4 linked regions of the Homo sapiens genome follow. The protein of the gene in region 1 interacts with the protein of each later gene in a biochemical or structural test. Each region holds a gene or a part of one and is shown in the gene's direction. Other genes may lie near its edges.

Region 1 (4,844 bases):
GGAGAACAGAACGTGCTCACAAAGAGGAGGCAGGAAGGTTGGATCCCTGATGAGCCTTGGAACGGAGGTGGGGAAAAGCAAGGATGTGTGGAAACAGCAAGAAGTGGGAGAGAGAGAGAGAGGCGGAGGGGAGAAAACCGTCACGGAGGCCAAGCGGCAGGAGCTCAGCTGAAGAAATGAGATTGGTGGTGGGTTTTCCCTATATCGCAGGCTCTGACTGCCAATCTGCTGCTCCTCCAAGGCCTCGGTGGCTGTGGCATGAAACATCCTGAGGAGCTTGTAAAGTGGACACTGTGCCCCTCACGTTTGGCCCATTTTTCAGGTGGAGCCTTTTGCCAGCTTGACCGAGGCCGTGCGGAGCTCAGTTCCCCGACTGCTCATCAACCGGGACTTGGTGGGGCCCTTGGCTTGGCATCCTCGCAGCAGGGACGTGGCCCAGCTGGGGGACGTGGTTCACGGCGTGGAAAGCCTAGTGGAGCTTCTGGGCTGGACAGAAGAGATGCGGGACCTTGTGCAGCGGGAAACTGGGAAGGTACAGACTGCTGAGGAGGACCATCCAAGGGGCTGCCCTTCTCACTGCTCTAGGGTATGGTCCACCTGATATGGAGCCCCGTTGGTTAACACAGTAACAGTAATAGCTGATGATGCTGTGAATCCTGCACCAGGCACTACCTGGACCTGACTGGGTGTTACTTTCAATACCTCCATTTAGAGATGAGGAAACAGATGCTAACAGGCCAAGCAGGGACACGGTCCAGACACTCAGGGCTGATGAGTCTGTATTCTTAACAGACTATAGGCGTTACCTTCACTCCCTAAAATAAAGCAGCCAACAGTGTCCCTCTAAGGCCTGGTATGTGATTCTAAGATGATACGGGTTAAAGAACTTTGAGAAGCTAAAGTTCTCTGCATCTATGTGGGATGAAGGCTACATGAGTGATGCTTTTCGGAAGTAATTGGTATGAGAGCCATTGATCAATTATAATCCGCTGAGGAAAGCCAAAGAGCCTTGATGCTTTCTAAGAGATTTCAAACCGCCTATAAACAAGTGAAGTTACAGAAAATGCAGTTTCCCATAAGAATCATGTAGCATGTGTAGCCTTGATATTAAGGGTTTTCAATGGGAGGTGGTAGCATTAAGCATTTAAAGTCCAGTGTCATGATTACAGGCAGGTGTAACACTGTCCAAAGGGGATTTCACCAGTGTATTAGTCTGTTCTCTGGCTGCTCATAAAGGCATACCTGAGACTGGGTAATTTATAAAGGAAAGAGGTTTAATGGACTCACAGTTCCATATGGCTGTGGGGGCCTCACAATCATAGTGGAAGGCAAAGCAGGAGCAAAGTACTGTCTTACAAGGTGGCAGGCAAGAGGACGTGTGCGGGGGAACTGCCCTTTATAAAACTATCAGATCTTGTGAGACTTATTCACTATCAGAAGAAGAGTGTGGGAAAGACCCGCCCCCATGATTCAGTTACTTCCACTTGGCCCCACCCTTGACACATGGGGATGATTACAATTCAAGGTGAGATTTGGGTGGGGACACAGCCAAACCATATCAACTACAATATATCACAGTTGATGCTCCTCTTGCCTTCCAAGGCAGATGTCTTAGGAAATCCTGATCCTTTTTCCTTGTCCACAGCTGTGGCTGCCTCATGGCTCAGGGCCATGGGGTCAGCACTCTCCTCACCTCCACCAGTCCAAGACCTCCAACCTCTGGTTGCAGGCTGATTTTTTACCAATCATGGTCACTTCATTATGGAGGCAGGGAACCCAGCTAACAATGAGGCTTAAACGCTGAGAGGCGAGTGCCTCCTGGCCAGCTCACAAGGCAGCGGAGATCTTAGATCAGCCCAGCAGGCTTTTTTGAGGGATCCTTTTCCTGCTCCAACTTCATATTTTCTTTTTTTTGTAATGGAGTTTCACTCTTGTTGCCCAAGCTGGAGTGCAATGGCACGATTTTGGCTCACTGCAGCCCTGCCTCCTGGGTTCAAGTGATTCTCCTGCCTCAGCCTCCTGAGCAGCTGGGATTACAGGCATGTGCCACCATGCCTGGCTAATTTCTGTACTTTTATTAGAGATGGGATTTCATCATGTTAGTCAGGCTGGTCTCAAACTCCTGACCTCGGGTGATCCACCTGCCTCAGCCTCCCAAAGTGCTGGGATTATAGGCATGAGCCAGCAGGCCCGGCCCAACTTCCTGTTTTCATAGAAAAGCAGATTGTAACTCTGGTAGCTCCTGTGGAGTTTTGGAAGTGGCTTAATAGGATTTGAACTGTATAATCTAGTTTCAGAGAAATGTATGTAAAATGGGTTATGATTTCATTTTCTGTTTTTTACAGCATTACTATCCAAGGGGTTACTTTTCCAAATAGTGAATGCTTTTAAGCACATGAGCATCAGTACATATTGATTTGGGTACTTTAAGACCCATAGAATGAGGCTCTCCATTTAGCCACCCTGTTCTGCCCAGGCCTGCTGGGATCCTCTTAGCCCAGCACAGCAGCAGCAGTATTTGCAGAAAGCAGCTTGTTTTGTGAAATATTTTGCATGTCTGCAGCTAGAGCTGTTTGAACAGAGATCTGCTGGCCTGCCTGGGTGTGTAAACAGATAGCTGATACCCTCTGTCTTCTGTATTCCAGCTTGATGGACCAGACAAATAGGATGATGGCTGCCCCCACACAATAAATGGTAACATAGGAGACATCCACATCCCAATTCTGACAAGACCTCATGCCTGAAGACAGCTTGGGCAGGTGAAACCAGAATATGTGAACTGAGTGGACACCCGAGGCTGCCACTGGAATGTCTTCTCAGGCCATGAGCTGCAGTGACTGGTAGGGCTGTGTTTACAGTCAGGGCCACCCCGTCACATATACAAAGGAGCTGCCTGCCTGTTTGCTGTGTTGAACTCTTCACTCTGCTGAAGCTCCTAATGGAAAAAGCTTTCTTCTGACTGTGACCCTCTTGAACTGAATCAGACCAACTGGAATCCCAGACCGAGTCTGCTTTCTGTGCCTAGTTGAACGGCAAGCTCGGCATCTGTTGGTTACAAGATCCAGACTTGGGCCGAGCGGTCCCCAGCCCTCTTCATGTTCCGAAGTGTAGTCTTGAGGCCCTGGTGCCGCACTTCTAGCATGTTGGTCTCCTTTAGTGGGGCTATTTTTAATGAGAGAAAATCTGTTCTTTCCAGCATGAAATACATTTAGTCTCCTCAAAGGGACTGCAGGTGTTGACATGAGTTGGAAAGGGAACCCTGGGATACGTGGCGTCCCCTCTATTGGAACAGTCTGAGGACTGAAGGCATTTGTCCCTGGATTTATTGGAGACGGCCCAGCTCCTCCCTCTGAAGGTGGTCACATTCTGTTGACTCTCCATACTCAGCCTCTCCTCCAGAAACAGATCTGTTCCAGAACATTCCAGCACTTTCTATCTGGCCTCCTTGTCCCCACACTACGCCCCCCCACCCTCGCCAGGGCTTCCTCTAGTGACACTGTTAGAGCTAATCTCTGAGACAGGGAAGGCATTACTCACTTAAAACCCAGGCTGAGTCCTGGCCACCTGCTGGATTGTGACATAGGAGGTGGAATCCACTGAACTGCTACTTCTGCACAGGCTCCTTCTCCTGGGGCTGTACCCAGGCCCAGCCCTGATGGCTCACCCTGTCAGGCACCAGCTGCTCCCTCCTGGGCTCTCACCCACCTGCACATCCTCCTTCCTAGCATCACATTACCTGCGTGTTTCCCCAGACAAAAGCACTTCCCATTCTTGAACCTTGCCTACCCTGGGCTGAGCTGACGGCAATAGATTTAATGACAGTGACTCCCAGGAAGGGGGTCCTGTGACTTTGCGCCTTAATAAGAACAAAAGGTGGAATTGGTGACCTAGGAAAACTGTTGAATTCTAAAAAGAATGAAGTTAGTTTCTAACCCTAGTTAATGTTCCTTTTTTATTTTTTGAGTCTTGCCCTGTCACTCAGGGTGGAGTGCGGTGTTATGATCTCAGCTCACTGCAACTTCCGCCTCCCGGGTTTAAGCGATTCTCCTGGGTAGCTGGGATTACAGGTGTGTCCCACCACACCTAGCACATGGGCATATTTGTAATAGAGACAAGGTTTTGCTATGTTGGCCAGGCTGGTCTCGAACTCCTGGCTTCAAGTGATCCACCCACCTCGGCCTCCCAAAGTGCTGGGATTACAGGCATGAGCCACTGTGCCTGGCCCCTTTATTTGATAATTTACACATACATTTTTGTCCAAAACTCTTCTTTATTTCAAGATGATGTTTCTGTGGCTATGTGTGGTATGTGGTATAAATCTCAATCTATGGTCACACGAGGGGCATTTTCCTTGTTGTAAGTGTAGTCTAAACCAGTAGGAAGGAGGTTTAATTGCCAAAACCAGCGAGAACTCGGGCACTGTGGATACTACAGTGGGCAGCTGAACGAGGACCAAGGAGAATGTCTAAGAGGCCTCCAGCCCTGCGCTCAGTGAAGACAGGACAGGAACAACAGAGCATACATACCTTGGAAGGGTGTGTTCTGATATACTCGTATGGAAAGTTCTGACAGGTTTTCTCCCTGGGAAGTGCAGCACATACCCCAACACACTGGCTCTGCCAGTGTGCCAATCCCAGATGGTGCTTGCTTTGTGTGCACCCACACCCAAACCCCTGCCCTCCCATATGCTCTTCTGTGTGCCCAGGTAGGCCCTGCCCTCAGGCAGCAGCTTCTGAACACATTCCTCTTGGCGCAGACAAAAGAAAGTACTTCGTCTGTGGAATTCGAGGCTGAGCCTGAGTTCTAGCACAAGAAGACCGTTGCAGTCCAGAGATGAGAAACTG
Region 2 (7,031 bases), on another chromosome or scaffold:
TGGTTGTTTAGTTGATTGGTTGGTTGCTCGCTTTGGCAGCACATATACTGAAACTGGAAATACAGAGAAGATTAGCATGGCCCCTGCGCAGGAAGACATGCGGATTCGAGATGCATTCCACTTTTAATTAAGAAAATAAATACGTTTGTTTTCAGCCTTTTCTTTAGGAAAGAGAACTTTGCCCAATTTATGGTCTGGGAATATACATCAGGAATTGGATTAGTTAGAAAAGCAGTAGAGGGTTGTAGTGAAGTCAGATCTGGGTTTGAATCCTCATTCTTGCGTTTATCAGCCTTGGAAAGTTATTCGAGCTTTCTTTGCCTTAGTTCCTTTATCTGTGAAATGGAGTGCTGTAATAATACCCACTTCACAGGTCGTCGTGAAGATTAAATGAGAATGACGTAAAACCCTTAGCATGCCACTGACACGTAACAATACATAAGCCAACAAAATTCCTGACACCAATTTTGGAGGCTAGTGGACTTTTATCTTTTGTTTTTAATATTGTTACTCTGACCCTGTTAGTATAAAATTTTTTTTCTTCAAAATTTAATGTTCACCGCTCTTCTTTGTGTCTGGAATGTAGCCCTAACAATCTGGTGCTTGACCAACCAAATATGGCGAAAGATACTTCCTGCTAAGATGAACAGATTTTTATTAACCTGTCCAGTGCCGATAGCTTTTGACATAGAGTGTGATTGCTATATGCCCTTCCACAAGTGAAAAAGAATTTTTTTTAAGCAAGGCACTGTGGGAACAAGACAGAAGTTTCCGGAGTCTTTGCTATTTCCCAGGAATTTGCAAGTCAAGTTGAGGAGAAAATACAATAAAAAATAAGAGCTGTGATTCCCATTCAGGTGGATGTGGAAGATCTTCCTCCTTCCACTCAGCAAGAAAGGAGATTCTGAGGAAAGAGAGGGCTCTGAAAATGGTGTAATCAGTGTCTTGATGGTTAAAGCTGACTTCAAAAGTATATATCTGAAGGGAGAGAGAAAGAATGGTGACTTTTATGTTTATTACCTAAGGAGAGGCACAGAGGGAAACCAATGTACGTGGACTTACAACAGAGATTGCTTAATTGGTGTGGAGTGGGGAAGGGTGAAATCAGTGATGCAGGATGAGGGACAGCTGGTATAGAGGATTCCCAATGGGCCTTTGGAAGCCTGGGCCTCCAGTGGAGCCGGATTGTCATTCCAAGGAGTTTTGTCTGCAGTTGTCAGGACAGGTGGCTACTAGCTTTGCCAGGATTAGGGTAGAACAGGCCACACCTGCTGTACATAGATATCTGATGACTGGTTCTGGGCTGCAAGTTTTTGTTGGTTCTTTGCTAAGCAGTTTCTCCCTGCAGGCCCCAGTCCAGCCGTACATCTGGCAACTAAATCCTCTTCATCCGTTTATCTGGGAAGATGAAAGCTCTGTGGCCAACCTGTACTAGAACAGGTCTGATTGGCCCTTGGAGTGAGTGTATGGAAAGAGTTGGGGAGGAAATGGCCCAGCAATGAGGTCAGTAACAGGCGGAAAGGGGACAATTGCATTTTATTTATGGTCATGAAATGCTTGTCCCCCACCCCACCCTTTAAACAGGTGATAGCCATGAAAATGGAGGTGAACTAATTTGTTGATCAGCTCTTCCATGACTCTTAAATGCTTGAAATTCCAGACCCTAAAGTGGTTGTCAGACTGGAGATACTAAAATTTACTGTATATCAGAATCCCCACAGGAACTTGTTCAAAGTGTAAAATTCCTGAGATTCTGATCCGGGGAGTCCTGGCCTGAGTGAGCCTGGGAATCTGTGTCTTAATACCCTTAGGCAAGCATTTTTTCCAACTTTTTTTTTTTAACCAGTAAGAAACATATTTTACATTGCAATCCTGGGTATGTATCTGAAACAGCAGTTTTACAAAACTGTATTTCCCCTTACTAAGATATTTTCTATTCTGTTCTAGTTCATTCTTTATATGTACATATATGCTAGTCAAACCCACTAAATTGATTTCATGATCTATGTGAGTCTCAGTCTACAGTTACTAAACTCAGCACTGGAAGAGCCTTTATGGGATCTTCCCAGTCATCTTTCTTTGTTCCATAGCTTCCTTTCATTCATCCATTAAGCAAATATTTCTCAAGCACCGTTTTAGAGGTTGGGACTACAATACTGAACATAACAGGCAAGAGACCCTGCCCTCATAGTGCTTATACACTGTTCCATATTTTTTCCAAATCCCAGCTTCTGTTGTTTCTTCATTACACCCCCTACACCTCAGGGTTGAGCAAGTCTTTCATAGAAATAAAGGGTTGTGGGACTGAAGGGGTACATGGGGGAATCCTTGTTAAGTTTGGCTGTGTTTTGTTTTTTTCAGTTTTGCCCACCTTAGCCAAAAAAACAAAAACACCCAAAGCCAACATGGCCTCAAATGTATTATTTATGGTTTGTGGGAAGAGGAAGGAGAACTCATCTGGGATGGCACAATCTGTTTGTAGTTCCCCAGAAAGAAAGCATGGGGTATTGCTACTTAAAACAAGCCAGCAAAAGCAATTCTGAGGTGAGCACCCCCCAACTCCCTGAAAGAAATGCACACACACACAAAAACAAGTATGAGTACCAGGTCCTCAGTATACATTTCTGCAAGTATAATCTGATTATGCTTAAAGAGCAGCAATTTTTTAAGTCAAAAGTTTGATTATGATTAGCATTACTTTGGATTTTCAGCTTGAATCTGAGTGGAGTGGAGTGATGTTCTGAGAAATAAATGAGTGGAGTGATATTCTGAGAAATAAATATGTCAAGTAAGATGAGTTACCTACACTGCAAAGATGGAATGCATAGAAAACTCTCCAACAAGGCCCTCTTCCCAGAGAATTTCAGGAAGCATGAGATGTGATAAGGTTACAGAAGTGGGAAACTGGGTTTGCACCTGAGAAATAATTGGAAACAGTGGTAGGTGAGGGTGATTGTAGTAGGTTTGCTGGTTTGGCCCAGTTTTTGCCCTTTCCTGGCCCTGAAGTATATTTAACTGCCGTCCATGTCATTGAAGACTGGAGACCTTGGGCTCAGTAATTATGTCTTTTAATGTGGGTCTGGTATGCAGCTACAGCCTTGCTGGATTTAGCAGAGACAAGTGGAGAAAAGACCTCTGGATTTTTCCTTCCGCTCTCTGCAAACAGACCAGGCAGCAGTTTCATCATGAATTCAGGAAACAGATGGCTAATGTTTTGAGAATTAAATATGGCAAGGAAAATTAGATTAAGCATATCACAGCCTGGATGCCTATTGCTAGAGCAGCTATTAAAGACAAACTTCTGCCCCATCTGCTGGGACAGCAGCCCATATCAGGCTGTGGTACCCCCACCCGGGGCCCCTAGGATTAGTGTCATTCTGTGGTCAGCTGAGTAAGAGCACTGGGTACTTGGCTGCTAGCTGAGTATGTGTGTTTTCTAGGACCTTGCTCCTTCCATTTGGTGGTGAACCCATTGATAGCATCTTTGTTTTATTTTCTCTCTCCTCCTCCACTCACTCCCTAGCCCTGATTGATTTCTGTTTCCATAGCAAGTCCGGGTTTAATTCTCACCTTTTCAAAATTTGTACTTACAACAGAGGAGAGCATAGAATATTAGAACCCACTAGGATGGAAAGGGCATGATTTGAAATCAGACCTGAGTTTAAATTCCCCCTCTGCCACTTACTGATTGTGTGACCTTGTCTCTTTTATCATAGTTGCATGTTTTCTTGAAGCCCCAGCCCCCATCTCCCAGAGACTACAGCTATACTGATAGAGGACATTCCCTTCTGCTCTGGGTTTTTGTCTTCAGCCTCATCCCCTCCATATGCCAACAGTGCTGTGCACATAGTCGTTAATTGGTTAATAAGGGTTAGCCATTCACACTAATAAAGAATTAGCACATTCACCATTTGAATGAAGAGGGCTAATAAATACATTTGGCAAATATTTATAGAGTCCTGTTATGTGCCAGGCATTGTTAGGTAATGGATGTGCAAATCTGGGCATGGGGCCTGTGGTGGTATCCTGGGTGGGAATGCTTCTTTGAGCAGGTGCCATTTAAGCTGAAATCTGGAGGAGTTGGGAAGGCAAAGATGGAAGTTGCAACACAAAGTCCTCCAGACTTTGGAGTCTCACATGCAGTCTTCATTGGTTAGGTCTACTGACCTCTGCATTCATCACTATGCCAGATTTTCCTCTAGCACTTTAATTACCTGGCTGCTACTGCTCTTTTAATTGGTCCTGATTTCTTATGTCTTCCTAATAGAAAGCACCAAGTTTGTTAATTTATTTCTCCTGCCCTGTACTTCATAGCAAGCTTTTCTAATTTCCTTTCCCCAGCCATAATTTCTGTTGGTGCCCTATCTATAGCCCCTTGAAGCCCCCCATTCCCTTACATGCCAAAGCTTTTGCCTACGTGTAGATGAGATTCCATGCCTGAGGGCTTTCTCTGGGCAGGAATACTGGGGAGTCCCCAAATAGTGACCAACAGCAATTGATGGATTAATACCCCAGCACTCGTGCCCTTGGTTGAGACAGCTCTGGGGTAGTTTCTAGATGGTTTACTGGAGTCCCCAGAAGATTTGAACCCCAATTGCCCATAGGGATAACCTGCCTATTAGCCTACTCCAGGTTGGCTTTCTTCCCTTCCACCTCTGTCTTCTCCACTCTTTCTAGTGCTTCCTGGCATCACTTCCCAAATAAACTACTTGAAGTCAGAGCTTCAGAATCTGCTTCTGGGGGACCCAAACTTAAATAAAGGGCAGATACGGGGTTTTGGTAAGTCATACCATGCAGACCTTGTCCAGTGTCTGCCCATGGGTGAAAATTCAGAGCAGCACTGAAAAGGTCATTGCATGAAGAAAATACCCAGACTTAACTGGGAAAGGAGAGGAATATAGAAAAGAAAGTTTTACTCCCTGCTGCATTATTTAATCTTTTCTTGTACCTCATTTACTCTTCACTGAACAATTTTGCAAGATAAATCTGTCAATTTCCTTTCCTGCAGGTAAAGAAACTGAGGCCAGAAAGATTAAGTAACTTGCCCAAGTTCACAGACTTGGGGCAACACAGCCAGGATTCTGATAGAAACTGTGCTGCTTTCTCAGTCCAGTAGTCCTCAAATGTGTTGAGGAGGCCCAGCGTATGGTGTCAGTATGATTTTTACAGATTATAGTAAAATCTCAACATATTAGATTCAAAATAGCTAAGTATGTTATTGAAGTATAGTTAAGCTTACTCTTCCATAGAGGCCACTTCCTCCAGGAAGGCTTCCTTAACCTCTGCACCATTCCCATGTGCTGCACAGCACCCTGAATCCTGCTGTAGCCCATCAGGATAGTTTATTGAAATTTCCTGTTTAATTGTTTGTCTGTATCTCTCAAACTCAGAGTAGAATAAGGGTCAGGATTGTACCTTACTTATTGTTGTGGCCCAAAACCTAGAACAGACCTCAGTGTATATAGTACATGGTTAATAAATACGTGAGTGGATGACTATACTTATAGCTAAATATAGTTATGCCCAATCAATTACTAGATTCTGATCTAGATATGTAAGAGGCAGCAGAGGTCTGAGAGAGTTGGATTAATGGGAGAAAAACTTGAGAAAAGCCTGTCATTCAACTTTGTTTTCAATTTGGGGAGCAGGGCAAGAGCCTGGTTTGAGAACCTTTGTCCCCTGCCCATGTTGACTTTGGAGGAACTTTGTGGCAGTGATGGAACAGCTGCCACGTCGAGGAGCCTCCTCACAACCTCCAGCTGCCTCCCCAGATCAGCAGGGGTGATCTGCCTTCAGCTTTCTACCCCTAGCTTTCAGGGCCTCAGTCAGTCCTTTAATTTTGTCCCCTGAAGGGCGTGAGGCTAGGGGAACAGGCATTCATTGAACAACTGTGTATCTCCTACTCATTCTTCAAGAGAGGCCACTTCCTCCAGAAAGGCTTCCCTAACCCCTGCGCCATTCCCATAAGCTGCACAGCACCCCGAATCCTACTGTAGCCCATCAGGATAGGTTATTGAAGTTTCCTGTTTGTCTATATCTCTCAAACTCTGAGCAGAATAAGGGTCAGGATTGTGCCTTATTTATCATTGTGTCCTTAAAACCTAGAATAGACCTCAGTGTATAGTACATATTTTATAAATATGGGAGTGGATGAATGTATCAATTTTATGCTAGTTCCTGAAAATACAAAAATTGTTAAAAAAAAAAAAAAAAGCGTTTTTGTTTCTCAAGAGCTCCTGGGGGTCTAGAGAGATGAGTAAGTAAATAATGAAATTATGGTACATAAGTGGCCTGTCCTTGTTGATGTCACGGGAGGCCTTCTGTGGGAACTGGGGCTTCCATTTGATTTTAAATGAATAGTAGTTGGAGGCAAGCACAGGATGTGCAAAAGCATTGAGATACGGCACAGAATGACTCATTCTAAGAATTACAGGTAGCTCCAAATGGCTGGAACACATTTCTAGATAACAAACCTAGGAAAACTAGTTGAGACCTGGCTGAAAGCGTTTAACTTTGTACTAAGCATTGTGGACTTTAGCCTAAATACCTGGGGTGTACCACTGAAGGATTCTAACTGGGGGAAAGACATGCTGGTTTAGAAAGACTGCCCAGGGCAGCAGGTGTTTGTCACACTCCTCGGTGTTTTTCTCCCTTGTGTCCTCAAACCCACTTATACAGGGCCTGGTACAAAGGACATGCTCAGTAAAGACTGGCACCTTTAAATGGGAGTAGGAGGAGAGAATATCACCAGAATTGGTGTAGAAGATCCATCAGAGGTGGAAAGCCTAGGAAGGCAATCATTGAACTCATCTGACTGTTTTTTAGGATTCCTTCATTGTGCATTTATTTCCTTCTTGGCAATTGTTACATTATCCTGAGCTTGTGGGATTATTCTATGTATTCATATGTAAGAGTTTCATACTTGTTGAATAGTTATTTAGAGATTGCTTCTATGAAAGAAAACTGCGCTTCCTGCATCCACCTTTCTGTTCTAAACACAGCAGCCAGAGTGATCCTTTTTGAACTTACGT
Region 3 (7,587 bases), on another chromosome or scaffold:
TCCTACTGAAGTCTGTAGATTGGCAGGACCTGCTTCGGGGCAGCCATGACTGGCACCTATTGTAGGAAGTGCTCTAGACACACCCCAATGTCTCAGTTCCCCGGAAGCCTGTCCTCCACCTCATACCCTCTGTGCTTTGGGGAATCCACCTACAGAATTATACTGAATAAAAAATTAATCTTGCCAAATTGCCTGATGGCCAGATACTAACACCAACACCTACCTCCCCTTTCATCTCTCCCCTCTTGCCCATACATGTCACCTTTAGTATTTGAAGATAGCCTAACTAACAGGAATTTTTGAAGTATGTGCCAATCTCAGGTCCACAGGTATGCAATACTCTTGGTAAAGCACTTGAATTCTATCATTACGCAACCCCAGACACCTACTTTTTGTATTCTCTGTCATGTTCAATTAGTACACAGAAACTTACTGCCTGCCAGCCAAGAGCCTTTGGTCTCTCATTTTGTAAGAGAATAAAGCTTTTCCCCCCTTGAACATTCTATTGTCTCATGAATTCTGATGAGAATGGATTCCTTTCCAAATATAAAATCAGACAAATGTGAAAGCATCTAGAACAGTCTCTGGTCCAAAGGAGATGAACCACAGTACGTGTTGTTTCTTTTGTATAGATGATTCGTCAATCTCACTGCTAACTCCAAACAACTTAATTTCAAAGAAGGAACTCCCGACACTGACATGGTAATAAAACAGGTAGCCATTCTTTAGTTACTTGGCAATTTCTTGCTGATTTCCTAGCCAAGACCTGTAGGGAAACAGGTGCTAGAGGAGTATGGTAAACCAGCCTCTTTCCCCTGTGACTGCTGATTTTGGCAAAGGCCACAGTAAATCAGTAACCATCAGGGTGAGGGCATCTCAGACCCACATGCAGGTTTATTTTAAGCTTCTTGGCTGGCACCACTGAGACTGCTGGATCATCTCCATGTTGTCAAAGCTAACCTCCAATACCCCTAAGGGTCTTATCACCTGCCCCCAAGAACATCAGGCCAATCTGATCAAGCATTGCTCATTTTCAAATCCATCCTAGGGCAAATGGATGACTAAATGTTAAGGTTCATATTCAGGAAATGTCATTGCATTTTTGTTTATCACAGAAAGCATTTGTGTAAACAGGTGATTTTGCACATTGCTTTCTTAGTACCATACTATTTTTGAAGCCCCTTCCTCTCTCCTTCCCTACCTTCTCGACAACGTTCCTGGGTTGTTTCAGTGCTGCTTTCCAACACTTTCCAATGTTGAAGTATCAACAAGTGCTCTGGTGGCTAAAACAGTCTGGGGTCAACGCAGTAAACCCAAGGACCTGTTCTGGCCCTGGCCAGTTGGCCATGTGATAACAAACAGCACTTTTGAAGCAAGCCCAGTGGGTGGCTAAATGGAGCTCCATCTAGAAACAGGAACAAAGCCAGGCCAGAGGAGAATCAAGGTTGAGATACTAAAGAATCTCCTCCAGTTGTACCAGCAGTTGGTACCTCTGCAGAAGGGTAGTTTATTTATAATATACCTCTCACTGAACCATACAACTTTACAACCAGAGGACAAAACTTATACCTGTAAATGAGATTATTTCAAAGCTATCACTTTAGGAAGGCTTTATTCTGATTTCAAAAACACCTTGGCATTCAATACTTATGTCAAAATTCTTTTGACTATATTTAGTGGTGGCAAATACCAGTTTTTTTGAGAGTGGGTGTTATTTTTAGAAATATCCAGGTCATTCAGAACTAAGAAGAATAAGATGGGAATCAATACTATTCTGGTATAAAACCAAAGTGTTGGTTATAGTAAAACAAGTTGGAGTTTCCTGTGCAGATCTGAAAACAATTTGAAAAGGGAGTTTTAAAAGTGCTCTGAATAATGGCAATGTCAGTGTGGAATAAGGGTTGCTACTAAGGTAACAGCTTTGAAGAGGTCATTTGATATGGATGTTGGACTCTGTTTTTTTTTTGGAGATGGAGTCTCACTCTGTTGCCCAGGCTGGAGTGCAGTGCTGCAATCTCAGCTCACTGCAACCTCCACCTCCCAGATTCAAGCAATTCTCCTGCCTCAGCCTCCCAAGTAGCTGGGATTACAGATGCCTACCACCACACCCGGCTAATTTTTTGTATTTTTAGTAGAGATAGGGTTTCACCATGTTGGCCAGGCTGGTCTCAAACTCCTGTCCTCAAGCAATCCACCTGTCTTGGCCTCCCAAAGTGCTGGGATTACAGGTGTGAGCCACCGCACCTGGCCTGGATGTTGGATTCTTACTACTCTATTTCACAACCATTAAAAAAAAAAGCTTTTTGTTTTTTTTGAGACGGGAACTTGCTTACTCGCCTAGGCTGGAGTGCAGTGATGCATCACTGCTTACAGCAGCCTCAGCTTCCTGGGATCAGGCAAGCCTCCTGAGTAGCAGAGACTATAGGCAGGCGCCACCACACCCAGCTAATTGCTTTTTAGATTCTTTGTAGAGATGAGGTCTATGTTGCTCAGGCTGGTCTCTGGGCTCAAGCAATTCTTCCGCCCCGGCCTCCCAAAGTGCTGGGATTACAGGCAGGAGCCCACCAAGCCTGGCCAGGAAAAAGTTGATAAGACAACAGAGAAGTCTAGTATGTACTTCATTTCTGGGTCATAAAGCAGAAACTCTTAAAATTCCACTCACAGCTTCAGTTAAGTGGGTCTCTATGTCCACAAAGTAAGGGTTAAGAGGCAGAGATCCTCTATATAAATGAATTTAAACTGATATTCTAAGGTTCAAAGATTCTCCATTCTATTAATAACTTATTAGTACCTAACAATAGAATATAATGCACTTGGGGGCCTGGGTCTCCTACTTGCTAGGAGTTCTTAATCTAAAACACTGACCTGGACATGTCGATAATATCAAGAATAGCTAACACTTATATAACACTACATGCTATGTACTTTCTTAGCAAGCTATATATGTCAACTCTCTTAATACAGCCCTGCTATTACTTTTTACATTTTTATCTTATATGTGAGAGAATGAGGCATGCAGAGTTGCCCATGACCACACAGAAAGCTGCAGAGCTGGGAATGGAACCCAGCCAGCTTGGCTCCAGCTGCACTCTTAATCACTAGGCTACACCATCCTATGCATCTATGAAGAAGAAACCAGATACTTAAATTAAATGACAGGAAGAGTAGTGGAGAATATTTGCAATTTATGGGAAGCCCATTTGAGAAGCAAAAAGGAGAGGATGAAGGGAGGCAGATGGACCTGTAAAAACTGGGATGAAGGCCAGACAGACTAGCCACAAAAGTTCCATGGGTAACCTGGGGATGGGCAAAAACAGTCTCCTCTAGTTTATTTAGAGAACAGAGAATACAGCAACTTGAAAGATCCAGGAGTTATAAAGGACCAGTTTGGGTATATAACGTTTTTTATTACATAAAAAGAAATTCACTCCACATCATTTTGTGAACCTGACTGGCTAGTAAGAAGTTATGTGTAATAAATCAAAGTCAACTTATTGGTGAACACTAGGGAAGATAAGTGCAATGCTCTATCTGCCACTGCCAAGGAAGCTTTCAGAAGCCACTATCCCATAAAAGGGATGTATGGATGTAAGTCACTGAAGAGCCCTCGAAGATATCTTGTTTTACCACAGACAATACCAATGCCACCTTAAGTCTAATCTCATCTGAGGTGGAAACAATCTCATGGAACAGAAATGGGACTTAGAGCAGGGAATGACTTGGATGAAAGTTTTCTGACTCCAAGTCCAGTGTTCTCTCCTTGTAACCATTCAGGGCAACGGAAACAATACTGATTTCAAAACTCCTCAGAGAACGTGAGCACACATCTACGCTACAGAGATAATTCCCTCATCACAACTCCCTCTTGCTGCTGTCTACACCTGCTTCCTCTCCCTGGGGCGATAGAAAACATGATGGGCGTTAATGCTCCTAAAATCTGCAACGTATCAAACGAACGAAGCAACAGCTACTCTCGAGGTTCTTTGCTACGCCTTGTACCGCAGGCTGGGGTGAGCCGCAGGGAGTTGAGGTTCCCGTGAGGCTGGGAGCCGCTCCCGCAGCCTACCCTGGGAAGCCCGCACCCAACCGCGAGGCGCAGGGGAGGCTTGGCCGCTGGGCCGGCCACCCACACCACCGCATCCCCGCAGAGGTGCCAGAGATTCTAGGAAGCCTGCACGACAGGGGAGCAGCCCGTTCCTCGGGCCCCATGCACGCGAAGACATTGGAGCCGGCCCAGGCGCCTCCCCTCTCCCGACCCCGCAGCCTGCTCAGCCAACACCGCCGAGCTCCACAGACCACCGCTCCCTAGCGCCGCGCAGCCACACCTTCCACTCGCTGGGGGCGGGGGGGGGGGGGTCACGTGAGGCGGGCCCGGGGAACCAATGGGCGGCTCGCGCCGAATGGAAGGGATTGTCTGACCCCCGTGACGTCACAAAGCTGGCGGGGAGCGCGCTCCTCTTCCGCCCCCGCCCCACCCCCGGCCGCAGCCCTCTCCGCCTCCCCTCCCACTCGTCACTGCGCAGCCAATCGGCAGGCGGGAAGCACTCCGGCCCGAACGTGCGGGCGGGGCAGGGTGGCGGCCCCGCACGGTAGGGGAGCAGAGTGGGCAGGCCGGGGGTGAGGGCTCGCGCTCCGGGAGCTGCACGGGGCTGCGTGGAAAGAGCGCCGAGCGGTGGCGTCGTTGTCGCCCCCTCCTCGTCGGGAAGAATCGTTTGGTCTCCTGCCGTGCCCGGTTCGTATTCCCTACTCCCTGCCACGAGCCGCCCCGTCCGGGATCCTCCACCCGTCCAAAGTTGTGAGGGGGCGCCGGGCGTGCTCGCGGATCGGCGGCCGCGGGCGTGCGGAGGGCTGGACGAGCCCTGGAGCGCCAGGTGCGCGCCGGGCGTCCGGGCTGTGGGGCGGGCGTGGCGGCGCTGGGGGCCGTCGGGGGGCTGGGGGCGGGGGCGGGGGCGCCGTGCAGCCCTAGCGTCTTCCGGCCCCTGCGCTCCAGCTGTCAGCACGAAGGGCGCCGCGGGGCCGGCGGCAGAGTGAGCTCCAGGGAGGCTGTAGGGCTGCGGCACTGCCTGAGGGTCTCCCTGACGCACCCCGGGTCAGGGCTGGCCCCGCTGGCAGCCTGACACCGGCCGGCCCCTGTTCGTCTGGACTGAAACGGGCACCCCTGGGGCGGGGCCGGGCCGGGCAGGGCGGGGCGGGCAGCGGGCGGGGCTGCAGTCCATGGGCTTCGCGCCCCGGCTGGATGGAGGGGCTGGCCCTCGGGGCGCACCCCTGCTCGCGCCTGGGCCCCGCTGCCTTGGGCTGTGGCTTTGCCTCCCCGGCGGGGTGGGTTGGTTTGGTTGGCTTCCTTGTTCTCTCCACCCCTTTATCCCTCCTCCATCCTCTTCCCCCCCACCTCCCAGCCCATTCACCGGGCTGGAGCGAGACCTCGCCCCTCCTCCGCTCCCGCCTCCCCGCCGCCGCCTCCTCTAATGAGCATCTCTGCCTTGCTTTCAATGGGCCGGTGCTGCTGTCGCTGCTGCTGCCCGCGCGGGTTGTGGATGTTGTCGGCTCCGTGTTGTGATGACAGGAGAATGTGTGTGTGTCCCGGGCCCAGACGAATTGGTAGGTATTCACTTAACTACCTGCGTTGGGTACCCAGGAAGGATGGTGACAGATTTTTGTGTATGGATGGTTTTAGATGAATCAGCGTGGTATTAAGGGATGAGATAGATTGGAAAAAGGGACAAACGCGTCTTGGATTGAGATAGCTTTGATGTCTTTGTGAGTGCAGTTTTTCAGGTAGCGACAAAGGAAACTAATCAAAAAAATACTGGCGTGTGGTGCTTCGTATCTTTCTTCATTTATGTAAAAAGATAGCAGGAGCTGTGAAATGGCTAGGCATTTCCAGAAAAATGTTGAAAAATCGCGGATGGTCTTTATGTAGAGTGTTTAATGCAATCGGATTACATAAACTGGGGTTCCGACACATTAAATGATTAGCATAGCTTTTCTTTTTCATTTACATCAGAAGCTTTGCAAAGCTAAAGGGCTCTGGAGTCGGTGCCTTAATAGCATTTGCTAATTAATTTGGTCCGTGGGTCTATTGATGGAGTGGAAAAAATGTCTTGGCACAGGCTCTGCTAAGCACATCAGTAAGAATGGACGGCTCTCTTTCCTGTTTCTGGTTGCAGTGCATCTTTCTTTATTAGTCATTGGCAAAATCAGCCCAATCTGCCTGGGATGAAGATGCTACATACAACGTGGCTGAGTCTAGATCATGGAATAGGAAATTTTCCGTGAAAATTGTGATCAAGAATAACTTGCAAATTTGACACTGCTCTGTTTTACCAACAGTTGTACCTGGATGCTGTTCTTATTGCCTGATCAAGAGCCTTCTACACTAATTTAACAAGCTTGTCAGCAAAAGTTATGATGTAGAGTGTTTTCTTGTTGTTGAATCAGTGGATAATCTGAAGGATATTAAGAGTTTTTCATTGCTTACTTATTTATGAAAGCATTTGAAAGTACTTTGACTCCCAAGGGTATCTGATCTGATGGAGAGAATGTATCACTTGTACCGATGCGGATAGAACGCTCATTAATTACAGCACAGTTTTCATAAATTCCAACTTCCCTAGGAATTTTGTCTTTTGAAGGCATGTTGGAAGTTGGGGCATTAGGATATAATCTCAGTCCATGTACTAAGCCTCTGCATAACTGAAAGATAGAGTCAATAAAATTCACTCTCTCATTTTTTGTTTTTAATCTCAAGAATTTTTGCCTTGAAGGAAAAATGTAGTGGAGAATTTGATGTTTGAACGTAAGTATTGTTAAAAGCACCTGCTGTGTCAATCATTGCTTTTTGTCACTAGATTTCATTCATTTTGCAGTCAATTACAAAAGTAGAAAAGATGTCATACCAAGCCGGGTGCAGTGGCTCATGCCTGTAATCCCAGCACTTTGGGAGGCTGAGGCGGGTGGATGGCCTGAGGTCAGGAGTTCGAGACCAACCTGACCAACATGGTGAAACCCCATCTCTACTGAAAATACAGAATTAGCCGGGCAGGAGAATCGCTTGAACCAGGGAGGCGGAGGTTGCGATGAGCTGAGATCACGCCATTGCACTTCAGCCTGGGCAACAAGAGCAAAATTCCTCCCCCCGCTGCCCTCCCTCCCCCCCCCCGGCAAAAAAATGTCGAAGCAAAGGAATTTAAGGAAAGTGCAGGTTTCCAGGACTTGTTATTCCTTAATTAAACAATCAAACCCTGTTATGCATCTATCAACCCTCCCTCCCCCCCACACAAATAGTATTTTGAGTCAGTTTACGTTCCATACAGGCACATTTTCATTGTTTTTTTCTGTAAGATTCTTAAGTTTTAAAGAAAGAGCAAATGCAGTCATAAAATTATGAAGAAAAATTCATTAAGATTACATTAGTTTACATTTTTAATGATAGAAAACCTTTATTCAAAGCACAAAATGAGTTGATATGCTTTCTGCACGCAAACCTAAAAAGAGATATGGTTTAAGTATGGAAGCCACTGTCATGTGGCCCAACATTTGAGCACATCTTCTGGCTCAGTCATGTACACTTAACCTCTGGATGACTTT
Region 4 (7,031 bases), on another chromosome or scaffold:
TCCTGCCTCAGCCTCCAAGTAGCTGGGACTACTACAGGCACTCACCACCATTCCTGGCTAATTTTTAGTTTAGTTTTGTAGAAAGTAAGACTAAATACACTGGATCATTCAGAATGTCAGAAAGTAATGTTTTCCTCAGTTTATTTTTTCTTAATAGCACACACCATGTTATTGGTTTGTGTTTTGTTAGTGCTTGTAACTAGAGTGCAACTTAATTAACAATTTGCTCCTCCTCATGAGGTTCATGGCAGTATAGACTTAAATTCTAGTCCCATGTTTGTCATTTATTAGCTGTGTGCTAAGACTTGGTTTTCCTATCAGCAGAATTGCTATGTATATCTAGGGTATGTTAGGGTTCAAACCAGGAACCCTCTTGTAAGTGAAGGTGGGGGGAGCTATTGGTAATTTTTTGTCAGAATTGGCATACTAATTTATTACTACATTACTAATGTATCATTACCTCATCTATTTCAGTGTTTATGGGCCAAGTGAATATACTTCACTAAAAGCAGTTTTACTGTAAATCACTAACAAGTATTAATTAAGGTTATGAAGAGGACTTACCAGCACCTTGCATTGGATTTTTTTTGAAGTAACAGTTCTCAAACAAGAGAGCTAGCACTATTCCCAATTGAGCAAAATGGGACTATTAAGACTGATGTAAAACAAAAATATTTTGTTAGTTCATAATACGTACTAAATTGAGGGGATTTCAGATAATTGACACCTGCAGAGGCATAGTCACAACAGATTCCTATCATTTAAGAACTGTACTTCTTGTTGAAAATAAGGGAGTGTTAGCCATTTTGGTCCTTTTTTGCATCATCTAATGGACATGAGAAGTGTCGTGGACCCTATTGGAAACAGCATGATTGGGTTAGGAATTTGCATAGGATGAGTTCAGTGGTGAGACTTTTGAAACTACACACATCTACCTTGTTTTAGTCCTATTTTCAAAATTTTGGCATTGTGAGATTTTATTTACTGTGTGAACCTAAAGTTACTGTTTAAGTACATGCCACGCAACTCTGTGTTATTAAGAAGCACTGTCTCAGAAGCTGTGTGTAAATTTAATATTAAGGCACTAAAGACCAAGCATAGGTACATGCCTGTAGTCCCAGCTACATGGGAAGCTGAGGTGGGAGGATTGCTTGAGCCCAGGAGTTCAAGACCACCTTGGGCAACATAGTGAGACCTTGTCTACAAAAATAAAAGAAGCTGAGCATGGTGGCTTGAGCCTGTGGTCTCAGCTACTCCCTTGAGCCCAGGATGTCAGGGCTGCAGTGAGCCATGATCTGTGCTACTGCACTCTAGCCTGGGCAGCAGAACAAGACCCTGTCTCAAAAAAAAAAAAAATTTTTTTTTTTAAGTTAAGGCATTAAAATATTTGTCACAAATCTCAAGATTTCTACTTGACATAGAAGCCATGAGAGAAATAAACATTGTAATGACATATATCGTTGAACTAGGTGTGATGTTAGCTGTTGATGCTGTAATTGCTGAACTTAAAAAGCAGTCTAAACCTGTGACCACCCCTGAAGAAATTGCACAGGTAAGGACTTAACATGTTACACGTTTTTTAAAAAAAATTTAATGGCATGTGTGATTTTTTTTTTCCCTTGATCACACCAATGTCAGAATAACAATACTACCCAATCATCAATATTAGAATCATTGTTTCTTACTGCTAAAACCTTTGAAAAGAATTATGACCATAATGGTTGTCATTTAGTTCTACATGTGGTTGTCATTTTAGTTCTACATGGCTGTAAAATGGATTCATATGATTGTGAAAATGTTCTTAGCCATTGTCAAAGGTGCATAAGTTTTGTCAGTTTGTAATGAAGTCAGCATTTTTAAACTTTTTGTTACAAGAATAGTTTTATGTATCATATTCTTCAAAACAATGTAGTCAAATAATGAATCGGAAAAGAGCAAAGAACCAGTACTTCATGAAAACTACCATAACGTAAATTCCCCTTCTCTCCCCTGGATGGAAGTATCAATTTGGAAGTTACTAGGAAAAGGTAAGGGAACTGACTGAGGACACTAGGCTTACCTTTTAATTTCGAAGAGTAACTGGATTATTTCAGGTTGCTACGATTTCTGCAAACGGAGACAAAGAAATTGGCAATATCATCTCTGATGCAATGAAAAAAGTTGGAAGAAAGGGTGTCATCACAGTAAAGGCAAGTGTGTTTGTATTTTTAAAGATAATTTTGAGTTATCTTATGATCAAAAGTTTGAGTTATCTGATGATCAAAACTGAATTTTTCAAACAGAAAAATTCTGTTTTAAAAACTGCTTTTTTTATTCCTTCATATGTAGTCTCAGCACATGTATAGAATAAAGTACTTACTGTGTTTTATGTGAATTAGCCTTTGCTGCATGAAATGAATCCATCCTAACTTAAATGATTATTCAAATAAGCACTTTTGGGATTTTTTGCAGAAGTGTAATTGGATGTCCTGGGCTGTTTCATACTCTACCCTGCATCTCTTATGGCCAGAGGGGTCTGTTTTTATTAATCTGGCCTGTAATTCCATGTTTTGTGTTCAATGAAATCCATATACCTAATTCTTTGACTTTTCATAGGATGGAAAAACACTGAATGATGAATTAGAAATTATTGAAGGCATGAAGTTTGATCGAGGCTATATTTCTCCATACTTTATTAATACATCAAAAGGTAAGAACAAATCAATAACTGAATTATTATTATTTTTATTATTTTAGACAGAGTCTCATTCTCTGTTGCCCCGGCTGGAGTGCAGTGGCATGATGTGGTGGCGCGTTGCTCACTGCAACCTCCGCCTTCCGGGTTCAAGTGATTCTCTTGCCTCAGTCTCCCAAGTAGCTGGGATTACAGTCACACGCCACCATGCCAGGCTGATTTTTGTATTTTTAGTAGAGATGGGGTTTCACCATGTTGGCCAGGCTGGTCTCTTAACTCCTGACCTCAGGTGATCCACCCACCTTGGCCTCCCAAAGTGCTGGGATTATAGGTATGAGGCTCTGTGCCTGGCCAATTTTTGAATTTTTTAATAGAGACAAGGTTTAGCCATGTTGGCCAGGCTGGTTTTGAATTCCTGGCCTCAAGTCATCTGCCTGCTTTGGCCTCCTGAAGTTTTTAAAATATACTTTCTAATATGTGTCAAACTATAGGTATTAGTTGGTGTCATCCTCTAAAAAATAAATGTATATATTCCAAAAGTTAATGCATATGAGAAATGAAGGAGGAAAACCAACTCACTGGTGAATTTTAAAGTGTATTGGAACCTTGGTTTCGCTTTTCATTTAAATGTATTGCAGTCATTTTTTGTATATTTTTGAAATCTTCATTATTTTTACAGGTCAGAAATGTGAATTCCAGGATGCCTATGTTCTGTTGAGTGAAAAGAAAATTTCTAGTATCCAGTCCATTGTACCTGCTCTTGAAATTGCCAATGCTCACCGTAAGCCTTTGGTCATAATCGCTGAAGATGTTGATGGAGAAGCTCTAAGTACACTCGTCTTGAATAGGTAATAAGCAGTGGTATTTGTTGATTTATATTTCTCGGTGAAAGACAGAATTATTTGTATTGCTGTTTGCAGTTTCCATCATGTGTACCTCCACATTTGATCCAGTTGGGTTTGTATCTAGAATTGTAATTGTGTAAATCAGGTGTGCTCTAATGTATCCTTATGGTTGTGTTTTTGAAGGAACCCCAAAGTCTTTACTATTTTGATCAGCTTTCTCATAGAATAGACTAATTTAGCACATGGGTACCTTTCTGTATTTTGCAAGTGTTTACAGTTGTTTTGAAGGCACATGACTGAATCTTGTATTTTTTTTTTTTGAGACAGAGTCTCACTCCCTGGCCCAGGCTGGAGTGCAGTGGCATAATCTTGGCTCACTGCAATCTCCATCTCCTAGGTTCAAACAGTTCTGCCTCAGCCTCCCAAGCAGCTGGGACTACAGGTGCGTGCCACCACACCTGACTAATTTTTGTATTTTTAGTAGAGACAGGGTTTCACCATATTGGCCAGGCTGGTCTCAAACTCCTGACCTCGTGATCCGCCCGCCTCAGCCTCCCAAAGTGCTGGGATTACAGGTGTGAGCCACTGCGCCCGGCCTTGTAATTTTTTTATTTTTTATTTTTATTTTTGGAGACAGAGTCTCTGTCACCCAGGCTGGAGTGCAGTAGTGCAGTGGCTCAATCTCAGCTCAAGCCTCCGGGGTTCAAGTGTCAATCTTGTTTTTTGTTTTGTTTTGTTTTGTTTTTTTAAGGTTTTTCTGGTTAAAAATATGTAAATTTTCAGAATATTATTTTGCATAGAACAGGGAAGTAAACAACTAACTTCCAAATAACTCAGAGCCAGGCATGGTGGCTCACAGCTATAATCCCAGCACTTGGGGAGGCACAGGCGGGTGGATCACCTGAGATCAGGAGTTCCAGACCAGCCTGGCCAACATAGTGAAACCCCGTCTCTACTAAAAATATAAAAATTAGCAGAGCATGGTGGCGTGTGCCTGTAATCCCAGCTACTCAGAGGCTGAGGCAGGAGAATCACTTGAATCTGGGAGGCGGAAGTTGCAGTGATCCGAGATTGTGCTGCTGCACCCCAGCCTGGGCAACAAAGCGAGACTCTGTCTCTAAATAAATAACTCAGATGTAAGTGTATTTCACCATCGAATATTTTTATTTATTTTGAGAGACAGACTCTGTCACCCAGGCTGGCCTGCGGCGGCACGATCATAGCTCACTGCAGCCTTGAACTCTTGGGGTCAAGCAATCCTCCTGCCTCAGCCTCCCAAGTAGCTGGGACTACACACTTGCACAAGCACACTTGGCTGATCTTTTAATTTTTTTGTAGAGACGAGGTCTCAATATGTTGCCTCAATATGTTGCCTAGGCTAGTCTTAAACTGTTGGTGAATCTTAAGTGATTCTCCCACCTCAGCCTCCCAAAGTGCTGGGATTACAGGCATGAGCCACTACCCTTGGCTGTGATCAAGTATTTAGTCTGTTGTTAAATGTTTACTAAATAGTCTGAAGTAGAGAAAATAGCACCCAATCTAAAATAAGGTGAGGTCTAGTCACTTATTTAAATCTACATTTTAAGCTATAGTTTACTATTAGTTTAAACTTTAAGACAGGTAATGTTCATGCTGCAGACAATCTAAGGGCATTATTAAAATGTTTGTTCTTCCTTATCTCAGAATTGAAGTATGTCAGAAGCAAGACTTTTCTTTCCATTTTGTTATAGTAGAAATGCATACATTAACAGGTACGTTTTAGACATTACACGTGCTCATCTGACCCAAAAGCTCTAATGAGCTGCCTTACCCTGGAATGTTTTTCTTAGCTTGGATTTGCTTTTTTGGAGGGATTAAGAAAAGACTTGGCTGGGCGTGGTGACTCATGCCTGTAATCCCAGCAGTTTGGGAAGCCGAGGCGGGTGGATCATGAGGTCAGGAGATGGAGACCATCCTGGCTAATACGGTGAAACCCCGTCTCTACTAAAAATACAAAAAATTAGCTGGGCGTGGTGGCGGGCTGAGGCAGGAGAATGGCGTAAACCCAGGAGGCGGAGGTTGCAGTGAGCCGAGATCTCGCCACTGCACTCCAGCCTGGGCGACAGAGCAAGACTCTGTCTCAAAAAAAAAAAAAAACACACAAAAAAAAGACTTGAGGCCAGAAAAAAACAAGCCTACAGAGTTTTCATTAAGCCATTTTACTGCTAGTTGAAAAGTGGGATATCCAGTTTACATAGCATATAGCTTATTCCTCTGATTTTTATTTGGGTCCTTAATAAAATAGACCAGCTGTCTTGAAGTTTGAACGTTGCTTCTGTTTCACAATCTGCTCTCAAATGGACATTTGATTACACATTCCAAGTATTCATTTACCTGGTAAAAATTTCAGGTGAGCTTAACAATACTGTCAGCTTTTTGTATAACATTTATAAAAGAAGTGAATTCAGAACATTGCTCATTCAAAACTCAGCATTAATATATGGAGATGTTTATTAAATGACCCTCAAATGTAATATTTAGTAATTACTGTTTTTCTACCATTCATAATAGTTATCACTGTATCCTATAACTTACTGTGATGTGATTTTTGCTGCTCGGCCTCCTGAGTAGTGGGGATTACAGGTGCCTGCTACCACATTTGGCTGATTTTTGTTATTTTCAGTAGAGACAGGGTTTCACCATCTTGGCCAGGCTGGTCTCGAACTCCTGACCTCGTGATCCACCTGCCTGGGCCTTGCAAAGTGCCGGGATTACAGGCCTGAGTCACCACGCCCGGCCAGGCCAACAGTTTATTAAGAAGGTAAACGGATATGGACAAGTATAATTAATAGAAAATAGCCTAAACTGTCTCAGATACTTCCTGTCTTAATTTGATCAAAAATTGCTAGGAAGCAAAAAAAAAACAAAAAAACACAAAAACCAAACCAGATTACTTAGGGAGTCCTAAGTAATCTAGTAACAGCTTGAGGGGAATTAAACAGATAGGCATTTTTATTTCATTTAAATCTTACTATCAACTATTCTTAACAGGCTAAAGGTTGGTCTTCAGGTTGTGGCAGTCAAGGCTCCAGGGTTTGGTGACAATAGAAAGAACCAGCTTAAAGATATGGCTATTGCTACTGGTGGTGCAGTAAGTAAAATAAATGTGATAATGGTTTGCTGAATGTTTATACTTGTCTGGAATTTATAGATAGTTTAACATTTCACAATTAGATACTACAACTATCTGTTTCTTTTGGCTCTTTGGAAGGTAGGGGTTGGATTAAATTCCCGTTAATTTGCCACAAGTCTGGCCTAAGAATGAGCTTACTGACTATTCTATATTGACTAAATCTTATTGACTGAATAAGGGGGTTTCCTTTTTTTTGTTTTTTTTGGAGACAGTGTCTTGATCTGTCTTGACTATTCTTGACTTGATCTATATTGACTATTCTTATTGACTTAAATCTGTGGGGTTTCTTTTTTTTTTTGAGACAGGGTGTCTTGATCTGTCACCCAGGCTGGAATGCAGT

Evidence for each region.
Region 2: the proteins of SIRT3 (region 1) and SKP2 form a complex in vitro, tested with the Homo sapiens proteins (one study listed by BioGRID).
Region 3: the proteins of SIRT3 (region 1) and PDP1 form a complex in vitro, tested with the Homo sapiens proteins (one study listed by BioGRID).
Region 4: the proteins of SIRT3 (region 1) and HSPD1 form a complex in vitro, tested with the Homo sapiens proteins (one study listed by BioGRID).

Annotation. Positions count from the first base shown.
Region 1 is NC_000011.10:214,520-219,363, reverse strand, and holds the end of SIRT3 (NAD-dependent protein deacetylase sirtuin-3, mitochondrial), read left to right. Parts: exon of another isoform or gene 1-322; coding exon 323-532; coding exon of another isoform or gene 533-586; intron 587-2,645; coding exon 2,646-2,666; 3' UTR 2,667-4,334; downstream 4,335-4,844.
Region 2 is NC_000005.10:36,155,096-36,162,126, forward strand, and holds part of SKP2 (S-phase kinase-associated protein 2), read left to right. Parts: intron 1-7,031. UniProt on the Homo sapiens protein: Substrate recognition component of a SCF (SKP1-CUL1-F-box protein) E3 ubiquitin-protein ligase complex which mediates the ubiquitination and subsequent proteasomal degradation of target proteins involved in cell cycle progression, signal transduction and transcription.
Region 3 is NC_000008.11:93,912,348-93,919,934, forward strand, and holds the start of PDP1 (pyruvate dehyrogenase phosphatase catalytic subunit 1), read left to right. Parts: upstream 1-4,575; 5' UTR 4,576-4,732; exon of another isoform or gene 4,733-4,871; intron 4,872-4,988; exon of another isoform or gene 4,989-5,236; coding exon of another isoform or gene 5,237-5,319; intron 5,320-5,563; coding exon of another isoform or gene 5,564-5,598; intron 5,599-6,748; exon of another isoform or gene 6,749-6,786; coding exon of another isoform or gene 6,787-6,796; intron 6,797-7,587. UniProt on the Homo sapiens protein: Mitochondrial enzyme that catalyzes the dephosphorylation and concomitant reactivation of the alpha subunit of the E1 component of the pyruvate dehydrogenase complex (PDC), thereby stimulating the conversion of pyruvate into acetyl-CoA.
Region 4 is NC_000002.12:197,489,815-197,496,845, reverse strand, and holds part of HSPD1 (60 kDa heat shock protein, mitochondrial), read left to right. Parts: intron 1-1,469; coding exon 1,470-1,552; intron 1,553-2,093; coding exon 2,094-2,189; intron 2,190-2,595; coding exon 2,596-2,689; intron 2,690-3,353; coding exon 3,354-3,522; intron 3,523-6,549; coding exon 6,550-6,649; intron 6,650-7,031. UniProt on the Homo sapiens protein: Chaperonin implicated in mitochondrial protein import and macromolecular assembly. Together with Hsp10, facilitates the correct folding of imported proteins.